2 separate regions of the Homo sapiens genome follow, and region 2 is linked to region 1. Evidence: fine-mapped expression QTL. A gene starts in region 1. The other region holds a variant in brackets. All regions are shown on one strand. Distances are between the middles of the regions.

Region 1 (8,339 bases):
TCTTCCAGCACAAGGTGGCAGCACCGGCATACAAATCTCTATATAAACAGGGGGCCCGTAAACTTTAAATTCAATCACAAAAGCAAGATGGGAAAGCCACGTGAACTGCATTTATTCTATAAATTGGATGGTAATCTAAACCTGACAAATGATCAAAATGTTTCTCTGTTAAGAACACATATCCATGCAAATCAGGTTTCAAGTATGAGTAAAACTAGACTGCATGGCAGACAGGAAGAGGAGCTGGATGCTGTGCGGCCTCTCTCCTTTAGCCTGGCACCCCAGGTGGGATTTCATACTTCTCTGTCTGGTGATTCAGAAATGTTCTTCTGTGGAAAGTCCTAGGCTGGATGCAGCAAAATTACCCGACGTGCTTATTAAAAATGCAGATTCCCTCTCTCATAGCCCATTCTGATTAAGTAGGTATACGATTAGGTACAGGCAGTTATCTTCTTCTTTTTTTTTTTTTTTTCTTTTTTTGAGACGGAGTCTCGCTCTATCACCCAGGCCGGAGTGCAGTGGTGCGATCTCAGCTCACTGCAACCTCCACCTTTCAAGTTCAAGCGATTCTCTTGCTTCAGCCTCCTGAGTAGCTGGGATTACAGGTTCACGCCACCCCACCCAGCTAATTTTTGTATTTTTAGTAGAGACGAGGTTTCACCATGTTAGCCAGGCTGGTCTCGAACTCCTGATCTCAAGTGATCTGCCCAACTTGGCCTCCCAAAGTGCTGGGATTACAGGCGTGAGCCACCACACCGGCCGCAGTTATCTTAACAGGTGTTCCAGCTGATTCTGAGGCACAGCCCTGTTGTGGCTACCTGCATCTGTATGTTTAATAAACATAACACCAGCGCTTAGCTATGAATATTTGGCTGTCTCTGCCTTTCACATAGTGGTTCTTTCTAGGTTCTGAACTCGCAAAGCAGTTAAATGCAGAAAGAGCTACACTCTCCCATATGGTAGCTGCCGGCCACATGTGGCTACTGGACACTTGAAATATTGCTGTTCTGCACTGAGATGTGCTGTCAGTGTTAAATAACACCAGATTCCGCAGACTCCATAAGGGAAAAATAATGTAAAATATTTTATTCCTAGCTTTTTATACTAATTACATGTTGAAATGATTTTTTAAATATATTACGTTAAATAAAAGATATTCTTAAAATTAATTTCACCTGCTTCTTTTCATGTTTTTAATGTGACTACTAAAAATATTAAATTATATATGTGGCTCACAATATATTTCTATTAGACAGCATTGGTTAGAGGATGTAAATAGCTTTGGCAAGAATGGAGGGGAAAGTGGAAATCGGAGAAGCAGAGCCTAACAGGGCTCAAGGGAAGAATTCTTGACCGCATGGAATTCTAAGCGCATTCCTCCACCCGGGCCTCACATCCTGGCAGCCAGGCCTGGAAGAGAAACGTCCTTGAGCCTGCAGCCGCTGCAGTGCTTTAATAACAGTTTATCCATGGGAGAGTTCCAACTTGAGCACATGCTGGCTGTGAACACCCACTCTCCAAATAGGTTGAGTTCTGAGACAGACTGGATGTTAGTCACTTGCCGGCTCTCAGAGGGCATTTCACATAGGAAAAAAACGTGGTTCCTGCAGACGGTTGCTGGTATGTGGAGTCCCCCCGCCCGCCGCGGGGCTTACTGAACCTGTGCAGTAGGTGAAATCTCTACTTTTACAACAAAGGAAAGCTTGATGGTTCATTGTTAAACAAAACCATATTTGTTTGTTTGTTGTCAATTTATACATAAGAATAAGAAAGAGTATGTTAAAGCAGCTTCTCTGCAGTACTAGTACTGTGCTCCAAGAAAGGCAGGTTTATACTTAGCTGTGGTCCTCAGTGGAGTCCCCAGACCTGCAATATCTGGGAACAGCTAAGAAATTCAAATTCTCAGGCTCCAGTGCAGACTTAAGAGATCAGAAACTCTATCTAGGGGTGGAGTTAGCAATCTGGACTGTGACCAGCCCTCCAGGTGATTGTGAGAATGCATCCTAAGACAGAGAACCACAGAGCCACAGAAAGAAGAGGCCCTGTGAAGGGAGACCCGAGGGTATGGAGAGTTGTTGGCTCCAGCTTGGGCGCACTCGTTCTCTCTTTCTGTTTCTTTCTTCCCTCTTCCCTTCTGTTCTCTTTTCCCCTTCCGCCTCCTCTTCCTCCCCCTCCTCCTCCTCTTCCTCCTCCCCCTCCTCCTCCTCCTTCTTCTTCTTCTTCTCTCTCTCTCTCCCTTTCTCCCTCCCTCCCTCCCTCCCTCCCTCCTCTCTCTCCTGTCTGCTGTCATTGGGAAGCTGTGTGGTCAGCCAGTCAAAAAGCAGATTTCAGAGTCAGGAGTTCCAGGGTTCACAGTTGAGCTCCATTCCCTACTGGGTGACTGAGGGCAGTTTCTAAACTTCTCTGATCCTGTTCTGCCCTCTGAAGAAGGGGAAAATAATACATCCTGTGTACGATTGTTATTGGGAATCAATGAGCTAGTGTATGGAAGAGGCTGCATGTGGTTCTTGGTACAAAGAAGCAGATTATTATCAGTTACATGTAGGTGAGGCATCCAAAATGCTAGGAGAAAAAACCTGAGCCTTTACACGGTATCGCTGTGTCCATTGTTACCTTATCAACTCCCATAGCATGCTCACTTTTTTTCATAGAAATTGTCTATTTTCCATGATTATTCAGTGAATCCACAACAATCTCATTCTTGGTTAGGGACTCATTAAAGTGTTATCAGTCTTATGGAATTATTTAAAACCTGTGAACTCCCCCAAATAATGCTTGAGGGTTCCAACCTTCCCTGCCCCCTCACAATACAGCTTCAGAAGCTGATTTGATCAAGTGAAACCACTGTGCCTCCTACTTCATTTTCCCGGGTTTGCTGCTTTTCTAAGTATGTCTCACAAAATGTATGCTGCTCTTTTTTTCTTTTAGTCTTCATATTGTATATTAGATCCCTAGACTTCTTTGTTCTACACATCTGCTGCTCTGTATTCTGACCTACATCTGCATACTGCTTTAATAGAATGGATGTTTGCAGACGTGACTGTGATATTGGAATATGGAAGGATCCATCCAGGGTCAGGAAGCAGCAGGCTGGCTTCATTCTCAGTGTTTGTTTTCTGGGTCTTTGAAGGAGAGGTGTTGCAGGGAAAAAGGTCGTGCATCAGGAAGTGTCATTTAAAAAGGACCTGAGTTGGGCTGAGTTATCAGCAAATACACGCCATGGCTGTGCTCCCCACCCCCCACCGTACACTAGCAGGGCAGCAGCTCTGATTGTCTAACGAGCAGCAGAGCCGCCCAGCAGCAACCACATTAGGAAGGAATCGGAAACCAACGCTCCGCTGGCTGTCACCCCTTACCCACTTGCTGTCAGGTAGAGTACTTGTTTATTATTAATTATCTATTTTCAGTATCCTGCACCTGGGGGTGAACATCATCGGTGCTAAGACTTTTTAGCCTATGGGGATCTCTGCTGAGCACTAAAACCACGGGCTTCCCCTTGGGAAGAGGCAGAAAATACACTTCCCAGGTTCTCACTGCCAGCTCTGACAGGCTGAACTGCAGTTGGAGAAGGAAACTGAGGACTGGGCTCCCTTCCTGTCTCCTAAGCCAGGGCAGAGCTGGGCTTCGGGTGATGGCAGGAGACAGAGAAGCAGGTAACTTCCCTGGAGGGAGCTGAGCAGGGCAAGTCCCCTCTTCCAGGGACATTCCAGGCATGACAGAGGTGCACAGGCACAGAAGCCCTGCTGCTTCGGCAAGCTAGGCTGCTCATAGCTGTGTCTACCCCTTCCCGGGACGTGGACTGTGGGGAGTGTCTATTCAGGACCATCTAGAAGAGTTCAGAGCCTTTCAAACTTCTTTTCAACATGCGTTCCTGACTGAGGACACAGCTCAAAGCTGCCTCTCAGGCTTAGAAACACTTCTTAATTTTCACTGTCGAGGGCTAGCTTTGAGTCAGATCCTTTCACCTCATCAAAAAGGGTGTCAGCACACAAGCGCTCCGAAATTACTCGCTTGGCTTTCTGCTCAGGGTGACTGTGGTAAAGAAGTTACAGCCCACAGGCAAACCCCAGTAATTGGCCTTGGCCTGGAGCCACACCTTGGAAGCCATCTCCCAGCGGGAGTGAAAGGACTGTGGGGACAGGGCATCAATGTCTGCCCAAGGCAAAATAGGGCGAACAGTAGCCTGCCTGTGGCACCCTCCCCACCTCTCTTCTAGAGCAGTAACCTTTCATTTTCTCAGCCTCTGCATGGGAAGTCTCATTTAGGCTCCTTAGTTCACCCACACCTTGCTACGACAAACAAAAAATGATAACCATTACAATATATGGAGTCCTTACTACGTGAGCAGCACTGTATAAGGTGTTTTCCATGTATCATCGTGATCTTCACAACAGCTGCTCAAGGAACGCATCATAATGGCCCCTTTGGAGGGAACTACAGGGACCCAGGGAGGCTAAGCTACCCTTTAAGGTAAAACTGGCCAGGCCAGGATTTGAACCCAAGCCAGCCTGACTCAACAGCAAGTGCGGTTTCCCCAACACTATACCATCTACCATTCCCAGACTTCTCAGGCTTAGGCTATGTCTGGTTTCTACGACATCATAAAATAAACATTATTAATTCATGAAGAAGCAAAGGACGTGAGCCATGGGAGTCATTGGGTAGATGAATATTGAATGACTGAATGGACCGGAGCTTCTGTCAGTTCCCTCTCATCCAAAGACTCAGCACCTCCAAGGCTCAGACTCCCAGGGCACTGCTACCTCAGAGATCTCTCCAGGCTCTGCTCACAGGCACTCACCCACTGCCTGACCTTGCAGGCTCCTGGAATTAAGCCATGAGTGGTTTCCTGTCTCTTGACAACATCTACCCAGAACTCAGACTTTGGTTTTCCTTTGTCCCTAGACCACAGCCTGAGGCAGCCAAACCCATTTCCTTGGGGATCCAGCGCAAACCAGAGAGTGTGGACAGGCCGATGGAAGAATGTTGGACCAGCTTTAAGAATGGGCTGTTCTAAGTCATGAATATTGTAGGAAGCAGCTCTAAGGACCACAGGGCTGGAGGGTGCACAGGAAGGGGCCAGTGCATACAGGTGAATGTTGGTTTTATTTTCAAATTTGTGCATCAAGGCTCTATCTACTTTTTTCCCTCTGAAATTAGGAAAATGGAAATAAGACACCCCTAGGAGTGCCACCATAGCATGGCCTAGCATTTTTTCAAATGATCTTTAGATTCAAGGATGATTCGGAGGAAATGGAGATGCTGATTATTTTGTTAAACAAATGCTGCCTGTTTAGAAACCACACACAGACAGCTCATGAAGTGGGAGAATGACTAATTGCTATGGCTAAAATCAACTCCCTTCAGTACTGGACTCACAGGGATCTTTCTCACAAGGCCCAATTATGCAAATTGCTGAGGCAGTCTTTTTTTTTTTTTTCCCCCCCCCTCTCCTCATGGCAGGAAAAAAGAAGCTGTTTCTCTTCCTTAAAACTGTTTTATCTGGCCTGAGTAAGGCACAGAGGCAACTTTCCCCTGGGGTGTGCCTGTGCTTGTGACTGTGGGCAGCAGACAGACCAAGCTGTTTCTCCTCTGCCTGTCTACACCTGTTCTCCACTTGCTCACACCCTGCTCTCTCCTCCTCTAGCAGTGGCTGCTGCTTCCCAGTCTCCACGGCTGCCCCTTCCCAGCATCTTCACACTGAAGGGCCAGTGTGCAGTCCTCCACCCCCTTCTTTCTCTTCCTCCCTTGGTGACTTCATTCAGTCTCTTGGCTTTCAATAGCGCCTGCCTCTGAGGAACCCTGCCCAGACCTCTCTTCTGCACCCCTACCCACATTTCCAAGTCCCGATGCATCCTCTCCATCTTCCTGTCCAACAGCCTCCCCTAACTTCCTAGGTCTAATGTGAAGGGCTGGGTCTTCCCCCAAACGTTTCCACAGGAACCTTTCTGTCTCAGTATTCTGTCTCAGATGCAGGGAACAGCATCCCCATCCTCCCAGGTGCTCCAGCCAAACACCATGGAGTAGTCTTTGACCTTGGTACCCCTCCTCTAATACCCAGGCTATCATCTATTGGGACATCTGCTGGCTTCAAAATATATCCAGAACCAGACTCTTTCTCAATCCCTCCATTACTATTGCTCTCCTCATTTCACTCAAAGTAAAAGCCAAAGTCTCCACAATGGTCTAAAGGCACTACCAGGCACTTTCCCTCTGACCTCACCTCCTACTTCTCTCCTCCTTCTAACTGCTCCAGCCACGCTGGCCACCTGGCTGTTCCCCAGACACACCAGGCACCTCCCCCGACCTTAGGACCTTGGCGCTGGCTATTGCCACCTCCTCAGGACTTTGGTCAAATATCACCTGCCCGCTGAGCCCTGCCTAGTCACCTCCAGGAATCAGACCCCAGAATGAGGAAGCCCTAGATCCCCAAGCTAGTACTCTCAATTCCTTGCCTTCTATATGAACTCATAACTCTATATAGAAGGTTATCACCTTCTAACATACTTGGTAATTTACTTATTTATAATGATTACTATTTATTGCCTGTCTCACTCACAAGAATGTAAACTCCATGAGAGAAAGGTGTTTTGTTTTTCCATTTTGTTCACTATGTATCCCAAAGGACTAGAACAGTTTCTAGGCACACGGTAGGCAGTTGATAAATATTTACTGAATGAATGAACACTACACAAACACCTTGCTGTTTCGTCTGACTGACACCTGGACCCTGAGTAAGGCTTAGATGTGGCTTTCACTCGGGGTGTGCCTGTCCCTGTGGAATCTTAATAAGGGAAAACACCATCCCAGGATTCCCCCTGGGGGAGGCCACTAGCATCCTGCCGACCTTTTTTTTTTTGAAGTAACTTAATTTTTATTTTCATGAATACAAAATAGTTGTACAGATTTCTGAGGTACATGGGATAATTTGATACAACCATACAGTGTATGGCTGAGGTATCCAGCACCTCAAGCATTTATCATTTGCTTGTCTTAAGAGCATTCCAATGCCACTCTTCTCGTTATTTTGAAATATACAATAAATTATTGTTAACTATAGTCATCCTATTGTGACACCAAACACCAGGTCTTACTCCTTCCATCTAACTATATTTTTGTACCCACTAACTAATCTCTCCTTATCTCCCCTCCCCACTACCATTCCCAGCCCCTGATAACCATCATTCTACTCTCTACCTCCATAAGATCAAGGGTTTTGCTCCCACAATATAAGCGATAATGTGATATTTGTCTCACTGCACCTGGCTTATTTCACTTAACAGTGTCCTCCAATTCCATTGACATTGCTGCAAATGACAGGATTTCATTTTTTATGGCTGAATAATATTCCATTATATATATCTGCCACATTTTCTTTGCCTATTCATTCATTGATGAACTTGTAGGTTGATTCCATATCTTGGCTATTGTGAACAGTGCTGCAATAAACATGGGAATGCAAATATCTCTTTGATATACTGACTTCCCTTCTTTTGGATATATACCCAGCAGTGGGATTCCTGGATCATATAGTAACTCTGTTTTTAGTTTTTTGAGAAACCTCCATACTGTTCTCCATAGTGGTTGTACTAATTTCCATTCCCACCAACAGTATACAAGGGCTCCGTTTCTCTTCATCCTCATCAGCATCTGTTACTTTCTGTCTTTTTGATAACAGCCATTTTAATTGGTGTAAGATGATATCTCATTGTGGTTTTGATTTGTATTTCCCTGATGATTAGTGATGTTAAGGATTTTTCCACATACTTCTTGGCCATTTGCATGTCTTCTTTTGAGATATGTCTATTCAGATCTTTTGCCTATTCGTAAATTGGATTTTTTGTTGTTATTGAGTTGTTTGAGTTCCTTAGATATTCTAGTTATTAATCCCTTGTCAATTGGATAGTTTGCAAATATTTTCTTATGTTCTGTAGGTTATATCTTGACTCCATTGATTGTTTCCTTTGCTTTGCAGAAGGTTTTTAGCTTGCTGTAATCCATTTGTCCATTTCTTGCTTTAGTTGCCTGTGCATTTGAGTCTTATTCAATAAATCTGTGCCCAGACCAATGTCTTAGAGAGTTTTTCCAATGTTTTCTTCTAGTAGTTTCATAGTTTCAGGTCTTCAATTTAACTCTTTAATCCACTTTGATTTGATTTGTGTATATGGTGAGAGACAGGGGTCTAGTTTCATTCTTCTGCATGTGGATATCAGTTTTTCCAGCACCATTTACTTAAGAGACTGTCCTTCACCAATATATGTTCTTGGCCCCTTTGCTGCTGACCCTTTTTCAAACACAACAAAAGCCATCTCGTCCATGTGTCCATGAGTTCAATTGTT
Region 2 (8,339 bases), 26 kb after region 1:
AGTTCCCGTGCCCTGCACCATTCCGGACCTCACCCTGTGTATCTCTTAATCTGACTGTTTATCTGTAGCCTTTGTAATAAACCAGTAAACATTAAGTGTTTCCCAGCCCTGTGAGCTGTTCTAGTAAATGACTGAACCTGAGAAGGGGGTCATGGGAACCCTTGATTCAGAGTACAGATCACAAGCTGGGACTTACTACTGGCACTGGAGTAGGGGCAGTCTTGTGGGGTCTGTGCTCTGTATTCATCAGTGCAGCCTGGAGTTGGACATCCAGTTGGTGTCTGCAGAGAACTGGAGAATTATTCCCACACAGAATAACCCCTATACATTTGGCAGCCAGAAGTGAAGTGTGAGTGTAAGCATGGTGAAAAATACAGTTTGTTTTTCTCAGTCACTCAGCTGCAGAACCTTCCTCTACCCTCAGGCCCCATACTGTTGACATTTCTGGAAAGGGAGCCCCTTTCAGACTGCATTCCTCCCACTAGAGGACTCTGTCCTTCCCCAATTTTCTCTCTCTCTCTCTCTCTCTCTGTCTCTCTCTCTCTGTCTCTCTCTGTCTCTCTCTCTGTCTCTCTCTCTGTCTCTCTCTCTCTCTCTCTCTCTCTCTCTCCCCTCTCTCCCCTCTCTCCCCTCTCTACCCAGTGCAGCTCCTCTCCTGGGCCCCTCTCCTCCCAATCACCTGCATGATTACCAATTACCAGCCCTCCAGTTTACTTCCATTAAGGATTCCATCGTCCAGTCTGCAGTCTGCTCTCCAAAGGCATGATTTTCCATACAAAAAAAAGTGTTAGTTTCAAACAACCAGCTTACCAACAAGCTCTATCCATTCGAATGGTCTGTTCAAGACTATTTTATAGTGAAAATTGCTATCTAGCCACATCTCTCCAAATCTTACAGTGAAAACTGTGCTTTTGATATATGTCAGGATGAAGTTAAGTCAAAGTTTCCTGTTTCACTTTTTACTGTACTTATGTAAATCAATCATTAGTGGACTCTTAAATGGTTTCCTAATGCCAGAAATGATTAGTCACTCAATGTGTTAATGGCACATTTTGTGAAATCTTTTCCAATGCAAAAACCACACAGCATCTGGGCTTCCTGTTCTGTATTTCTTTCTGGCCTTCACTATCTTGAAATTATCTGGTGCATATTTTTTATTTCCGCTTATTTATTGGCAGTATTTTCATTCTCTACACTTTTCTTCTCCTTATATTCTTTTAGGCTAGTCTTTGAAACGTCAGTCTCTGTCCATTGAAACTAAAATAAGAAAGAAGGAGAAAAGGAAATTGATGTCTTTCAAGTTGTAATAGTAATATGTTTCGTTTATAAAAATCAATTTTTTTTACCAGTAAAACATTAACTTTTGGCCTTCATTAATCAGAAAAGAAAACTGGATCAGTCTGAAAATGCCTTTCTCAAATAAGTCATACCATCCTTAGAACAGTGATGCAGCAGTTCTCAAGCTTGAGAACACATGGGAATCACCTGGAAAGCTTGTAAAAACACAAGTTGCTGGGTCCCATCCCTAGAGTTTCTGATTTAATAGGTCTGCGGTGGTTCCCTGAGAACTGACATTTCCAACATGTCCCAGGTGAAGTTGATGCTGCTGGTCGGCAGCACACTCTGAGAACAAATGGTGCAATATCAGAACTCACAAAGGCCTTGGAAATCATTTCTGCCTTACTTAGAGCGCTGCTGGTTGCAACTTACAAAATCCCACTCAGACTGGCCTGAGTGCAGAAGGGCATTTATTGGAAGCAGTTGGGATATCTGCTAGACTCCAAAATGAAGTTGAAAAATCAGGTGGAATATGGCACCAGTAGGGAGCACCAGGAAGGATGCGGTTCTCAGAGAAGAGTGGTGTAGGCTCAGCAGAGACTCTAAATATCGTTACTGCATCATCTCAGCTCCCATTTTTCAAAAGAGAACTGCAGTTTGAGGAAATTAAGAGCTTGCTACAGAGCATACATCTAATAGTGGCAAAGCCAAAGCTGGAAGTGGTGAGTAGCAATCTGTATCTTAGCCAGTGGTATGCTGGAGCTGTGGGTACCAGCCCCAGAGAGCTGGTTGTTAAATATTCAGGAATCTTTTGAGCAGGTCAATCTTGGTAGCTGGAAGCTGGCCACAGTCAGAATATTTACACTGAAATATTGGCTGATATTACAGACCAGGATCTTTTTTCTTCCTCTCTTTCTTTTCAAAGAGCAAGCTAACAGCACACCATTGCCTAATTCCATGTAGGGAGGATTTAGAATCAATGCAGATGTCATATATTGAACAAGAGGCAATCCCAGTGTGCAGTTTTTTCCAGTAGTAGCCATCCCTAATCCCACTATTGGCTGATGGCCCTGGTGCTGCCAGCTAGACCTCTTTATTTTATTTTTACTTTCTTTCTTCTCTCTCTCTTTCTTTCTTTCTTTTTTTAGACAGAGTCTCACTCTGTTGCCCAGGCTGGAGTACAGTGGTATGATCTCAGCTCACTGCAACCTCCACCTCCCGGTTCAAGCAATTTTCCTGCCTCAGTCTCCCGAGTAGCTGGGATTACAGGCACGCACCACCACACCCAGCTAATTTTTGTATTTTTAGTAGAGATGTTTCACCATGTTGGCCAGGCTGGTCTTCAACTCCTGACCTCAGGTCATCCACCTGCTCAGCCTTCCAAAGTGCTGGGATCATTCTTTTCTTCTTGAGACGGAGTCTTGCTCTGTTGCCCAGGCTGGAGTGCAGTGGCTCAATCTCAGCTCACTACAACTTCCGCCTCCCAGGTTCAAGCAATCCTTTTGCCTCAGCTTCCAGAGTAGCTGGGATTACAGGTGTGAGCCACCATGCCTGGCCTAGACTCCACTTTGTATGTCCAATCTTTCAAACCTCTCTTCTATGCATGAGTGGTGCTCTCTCTCTAACACACGTCTGCAAAACAAGCCCACCATCTATCTCATTGTCTTTGTGCCTGCTCTTGTTTCCAGATGCAAAGCCAGTTCCTTCCTAACTGTTGAACAGTAGAACTTCAGAATTAAAAGAATAAGACAAGCCTGATTAAGTGCATGTAAGGCCAAAATAAGTGTCTTTAAGAGACTCGCTTAAAAAAAAAAAAAGAATAAGGCAGCCAATAAGCAACTTCTTCCTAGGGATATTGACTTATTG[C/T]GTAGCTATTTAAAGAAGGAAATTCATGTGCAAATTGCCCTAGACTTCTTTCTCCAGGCTCCCGTTGTGTGGCTTGGCTGCCCACTACCTCATTCCCATCAATGGACAATGGCTGGGAGAGAAAGCCTCCGTGACTGTAAGTGACTCCCCAGACCCTTGGCCTCTGCCACCTGTCACCGAGCCCACTGACGCACCTCCACTGTCACGTTGGCAGTGCTCCATGCAGTCTCTTGTCCCACATTTCTTAAGAGGCAAAAATTACATTTACTTTACTGACCACAAGCCAGCACTGGGAGCTGGGAGGGTCGGGGTGGAGTGTTTCCTTCCAATAATGCTTCCTGGGGAAGGAAGCCTAAAACAACACAAAGCAAAGCTCCAGCCTTTCCAGAGGAATGTGGGGGCAGCTATTGCTGTCGCTGCCGCTGCTGCTGTGATTTTCTGGAACACAATGTCGTCATGAGAACTCCTAGGCACCCTCTCCCATGGCAGACCTGCTCTACTGGCATGCTTATTTGGGATACTGAGAAAATATGAGGATGCCAAGACAAATGAAGTCTTGGCACTCACATCTACGGAGATAAAAGCATTTTTATGAATTCTGATGCTTTTCCTTCTTTTTTTCTCTTTCTTCTTCCTCCTCCTGCCTCCTCATTCTCCCTCTCCTCCGCCATCAACCCCATCTTATAAATAGTTGTTGAACTTCCACTATGAATTTCCACCAACGTACTGAGCTAGGTACTTTGAGAAACACAAAAATGTGCATTGAGGTAAAAGGAACACAGCACAGGGATCTAGTGACCTCCCTTTCTAAACCTCATTTTATTCACTGTTTTCTCAAAAATTCATGTGGATAATATGATTGTTAATGATGAGGTATAACATGTTCTGCCCTTGTAGTCTCCTGGGAGAGGCAGGTACTTGGAAAACTACTGAGAACCTGGAGAAGTGCCTTTAATAAAGTGATAAACACAAAGTCCTAAGATTGCATCTAGTTTATTGAATCACAAAGTGTTTTCAATGGATTAGTGGATTGTATAATGTAATCTTTACAACAATCCTGTGCAGTAGGAAGGGGAACAATGTTGTTAGTTTTTGGTTTATCTGTCCCTCCACAGTCCCTGGAGAAGGGAACTTGTTATAGAGTCAGATTTTTATAGTTAAAGCAACTATTGGAAAAAGAAAAGAAAAACCACCAGCCTAGCACGTTCCTTATATGGATGAGGAACCCGAGGTTGGAAGTCAGCCTGAGGTAATAGAAAAAGCAGAACATTCCACCTGGTCACCTGGGTTCCTGCTCAGTTCTCAGCCATATGCTGGACACATGATTTTGCACATGACTTCTTTATGCCTTGATACCCTCTTCTGTAAAATTAAGTCAACACTATTTTATCTGACTGTCTTATTAGGCTGTTATGAATGTTAAATGAGAGAATGAATATGAAAACACTTTGTGAAACATTAAATGCTATTATAACTAACAATACCTTTTTGTACCAGGTATCACGGAACAGTCTCCACTCCAGGTTATGGATCCACTGTTGGGCAGTTCTACACTGCTCACATCCGGATGCCGATTCTGCCAGCAAATCCATCTGATTCTATCTCTCTCTCCGGTCTGTCTAACTCTAGGTTCTGCACATGTCTAACATGTGGTTGTGTGAGTGCCAGAGTGCAAGCTCTTGGGAGGCAGGGGACACATTTATTGATGTTGTATCACCAACATTTAGTACATGCCTGCTAAAAAGTTACTGTCAACATATTTGTTGAACAATGATTACTGGATGGGTGGATGAAACATCAATATGACTTGCCCAAGGGCAGTTATGAATGTCTCCAAAACTATTTCAGGGGTAATTCATGAACATGTCCTCTGAGGATTCTTCTTCCATCTCTAAGTCAGTTCCTATGATATGACTACCTCAGGGCAAGAAAGTCACTGTGTCCCTGCTACAACAAAAGATCACTCATGTTTCCCGACCACTCATGTTACCCTCTCTCTTCTCAAGAGGGCATTTCCTTTCAATGATGTGATTTTACATACTGCATGCCTGTATCAAAACATCTAATGTATCCCATAAATATACATATATCTACTATGTACCCGCAAAAATTAAAAAAAAAATTTTTTTTAAAGAGGGCATTTTGGCCAGGTGCAGTGGCTCACACCTGTAATCCCAGCACTTTGGGAGGCCAAGGTGGGTGGATCACTTGAGATCAGGAGTTCAAGACCAGCCTGGTCAACATGGTGAAACCCTGTCTCTACTAAAAAATACAAAAATTAGCCAGGTGTGGTGGTAGGCGCCTGTAATCCCAGCTACTCGGGAGGCTGAGGCAGGGAGAATCGTTTGAACCTGGGAGGCAGAGGTTGCAGTGAGCTGAGATTGTGCCACCGTGCTCCAACCTGGGTGACTGAGCAAGACTCTATCTCAAAAAAAAAAAAAAAAAAAAAAAGAGGGCATTTCCCATTTCTTTTTATAAACTCTATTCCAGTTATGTTGAGTGTCAGCCAAAGATCTGAGGTTGGTGTCCTGCAGCCAGTACTGCTGGAATGGATTGACAGTCATGGGAATGTACCAGGTATCATGGGGGCAGGCCCTGCTCTAGGTTATGGAGCCACTGTTGGGTAGTCCTACCCTTCTCACATCCAGATGCAGATTCCGCTGGCAATTCCATCTAGTCCTATGAGACATTCCCTGGAAATGATGTGCTCATCCTCATCAGCTACGTGATGAATGAATCCAGGGGTGTTTGTCTGTGAAGTGTCTGCTATCTCCTGTGCTTGATTTACTGACGTGGATGTTGTTCTCGAGGTGTGGGTTGAAGCCATGAAAATAAATGCCTTCAAGGAAGGTATGTAAGCAGACTGCAGTATTGGAGGGTACTCACAGTTGGTAAGTAGGGCAGGGAAGAGGAATGAGAAAAGGTAAGAAGGAGAGAGAGAAGTGAGAGAATGAGAGTGAGGTAGTGACACTAGGAAAGTGACATGTCATGGGAGACAAAAACAAAAACAAAAAAAACGAGAGAGAGACGAAATAACAGTGCCACATCCTGATAGAGTCATCAAACTCTGATGAAAGTCTATTAAATATGGCAATAAAGAGGTCATTAGCAAGATGTAGGAGAAAAGGTTTAGACATGTGATGAGTGAGAAGAAAGCCAGGAGAGATGTGGCTGCCCAGGAAGGTGAGGCAGTGGTGGTGCCTGATGTATTCAAGTATTTGGATAGGAAAGAATGTTGCCCTGTAGAGGAAAGAATGTTGCCCTGTAGTGAAAAGAACCACCAGGTTCAAATGAAGATCATGTCAATGTGGGCAAATCTCAGTACACAGGATGATAGGAGAAAAAGAATCAGAAGAGAGAGGATGTTTCAAAGGGAAGAGTGGCTGAGGGATCCAGATTTTTAGGAAAGGATGGGATTCATATGACTGAGGTCAGAATCCTAGCCTAAAGTTGTAAAATGAGGTCAGTGAAGTTACACTGTCAAACGCCAGCTCCCCAAATGACCATAGAAAACCCTTAGAACCAAGCAAAACTAAGGGGTAGATATTTACAGGGATTTGTGGGTCTGGGTTCAAGTGGTTTAAGGCAAATCTTTTTTTTTCCTATGTCTTGTAAATTTTTTTTTTTTTTTTTTTTTTTTTTTTACTTTAAGTTCTGGAATACATGTGCAGAACATGCTGGTTTGTTACATACGTGTGCCATGGTGGTTTGCTGCACCTATCAACCTGTCACCTAGGCTTTAAGCCCCACATGCATTAGCCACTTGTCCTGATGCTCTCCCTCCCCTCACTCACCCCCTGACAGGTCCCAGTATGTGTTATTCCATTCCCTGTGTCCATGTGTTCTCATTGTTCAACTCCCACTTATGAGTGAGAACATGTGGTGTTTGGTTTTCTGTTCCTGTGTTAGTTTGCTGAGGATGATGGCTTCCAGTCTCATCCATGTCCCTGCAAAGGACATGATACCACATTCCTTTTTGTAGCTGCGTAGTATTCCATGGTGTATATGTACCACATTTTCTTTATCCAGTCTATCATTATGGGCATTTGGGTCAGTTCCATGTCTTTGTTATTGTGAATAGTGCTGCAATAAACATGTATGTGCATGTATCTTTATAATAGAATGATTTATATTCCTTTGGCTATATACCCAATAATGGGATTGCTGGGTCAAATGGTATTTCTGGTTGTAGATCCTTGAGGAATTGCCACACTGTCTTCCACAATAGTTGAACTAATTTACATTTCCATCAACAATGTAAAAGCATTCCTATGTCTCCACAGCCTCACCAGCATCTGTTGTTTCTTGACTTTTTAATAATTGCCATTCTGACTGGTATGAGATGGTATCTCATTGTGGTTTTGATTTGGATTTCTCAAGGTGAATATTTTAAATGGGGATCTGATTGGGAATCAACAAAATTCATGACATGATTGTTTAGTCTTGGTGGACAGGGCAAGGTGAAAAATCAAGTTTTGGATAAGCAGACAGTGGTTTGACAAGCGAACTGTTTGCCAAGGTAAACAATCTATTGTCCAGAGAAGACAGCTGTTTTCCCAGGTGAGCAAACTATTTGCCCAGCCAAAAACAAATAGGGAAGTTACTTACTGATTTACAGACAATAATTTCCTGGAAAGAATAGTTGTCATGTTGACAGAGATGGTCATAGTGCTTAGTTCTGAGAGGTAAGCTCTGTTCACCGATGCAGGTGGTCTCAACTTGCAACACTGAGGTCCTCCCTAAGAATAAGCATGAACCAGAAACACTACAGTGGTGGTTCCAAACTTTGTTGAAGAGCTTCACAAAATACTGATGTCTGGTTCCCATCCTTGAACATTCTGATTTAGTTGGTAAGGGGTACAACCTGTGCACTGGGATTTTTAAAAGCTCCCCAGGTGATTCCAAACGGCAAAGTTTGAGAACCACTTCATTAGAGTTAAAGGAGAAAGTAGGGATAAAATGACTATTTGGGTGATGGCGATGTGGCCAGATCCCATCTCTATAACAACTTTTTAAAAAATAGCTGGGCATGGTGTTGCATGCCTGTGATCCTCGCTACTTGGAAGGTTGAGGCAGAAGGATCACTTGAGCCTGGGAGGTGGAAGCTGCAGTGAGCTATGTTTGTGCCACTGCACTCCAGCCTGGATGACAGAGCAAGACTGAATTAGTGTGTTCTCATGTTGCTAATAAAGACA

Direction of the effects. Positions count from the first base shown, and alleles are read on the strand shown. Sizes are in standard deviations (SD) of each study's normalised expression.
For the expression in neural progenitor cells of the gene that starts at base 3,277 in region 1, T is the high allele of the variant in region 2 and C is the other (large effect, 0.86 SD a copy in Aygun 2021).

Evidence for each region. PIP is the estimated chance that this variant, and not a neighbour inherited with it, causes the effect.
Region 2: its variant is fine-mapped to the expression of STEAP1B-AS1 in neural progenitor cells (Aygun 2021, PIP 0.90).

The regions. Positions count from the first base shown.
Region 1 is chr7:22,560,061-22,568,399 of GRCh38, forward strand. STEAP1B-AS1 (STEAP1B antisense RNA 1) reads left to right here and starts at 3,277. Exons shown (of 4, transcript NR_038393.1): 1 at 3,277-3,370; 2 at 4,906-5,092. RefSeq lists an enhancer at 3,302-3,803.
Region 2 is chr7:22,586,522-22,594,860 of GRCh38, forward strand. No RefSeq gene overlaps it. Among named protein-coding and RNA genes, the nearest start is that of STEAP1B-AS1, 27 kb to the left of the region's middle. The variant C/T (reference allele first, on the strand shown) is at 3,145.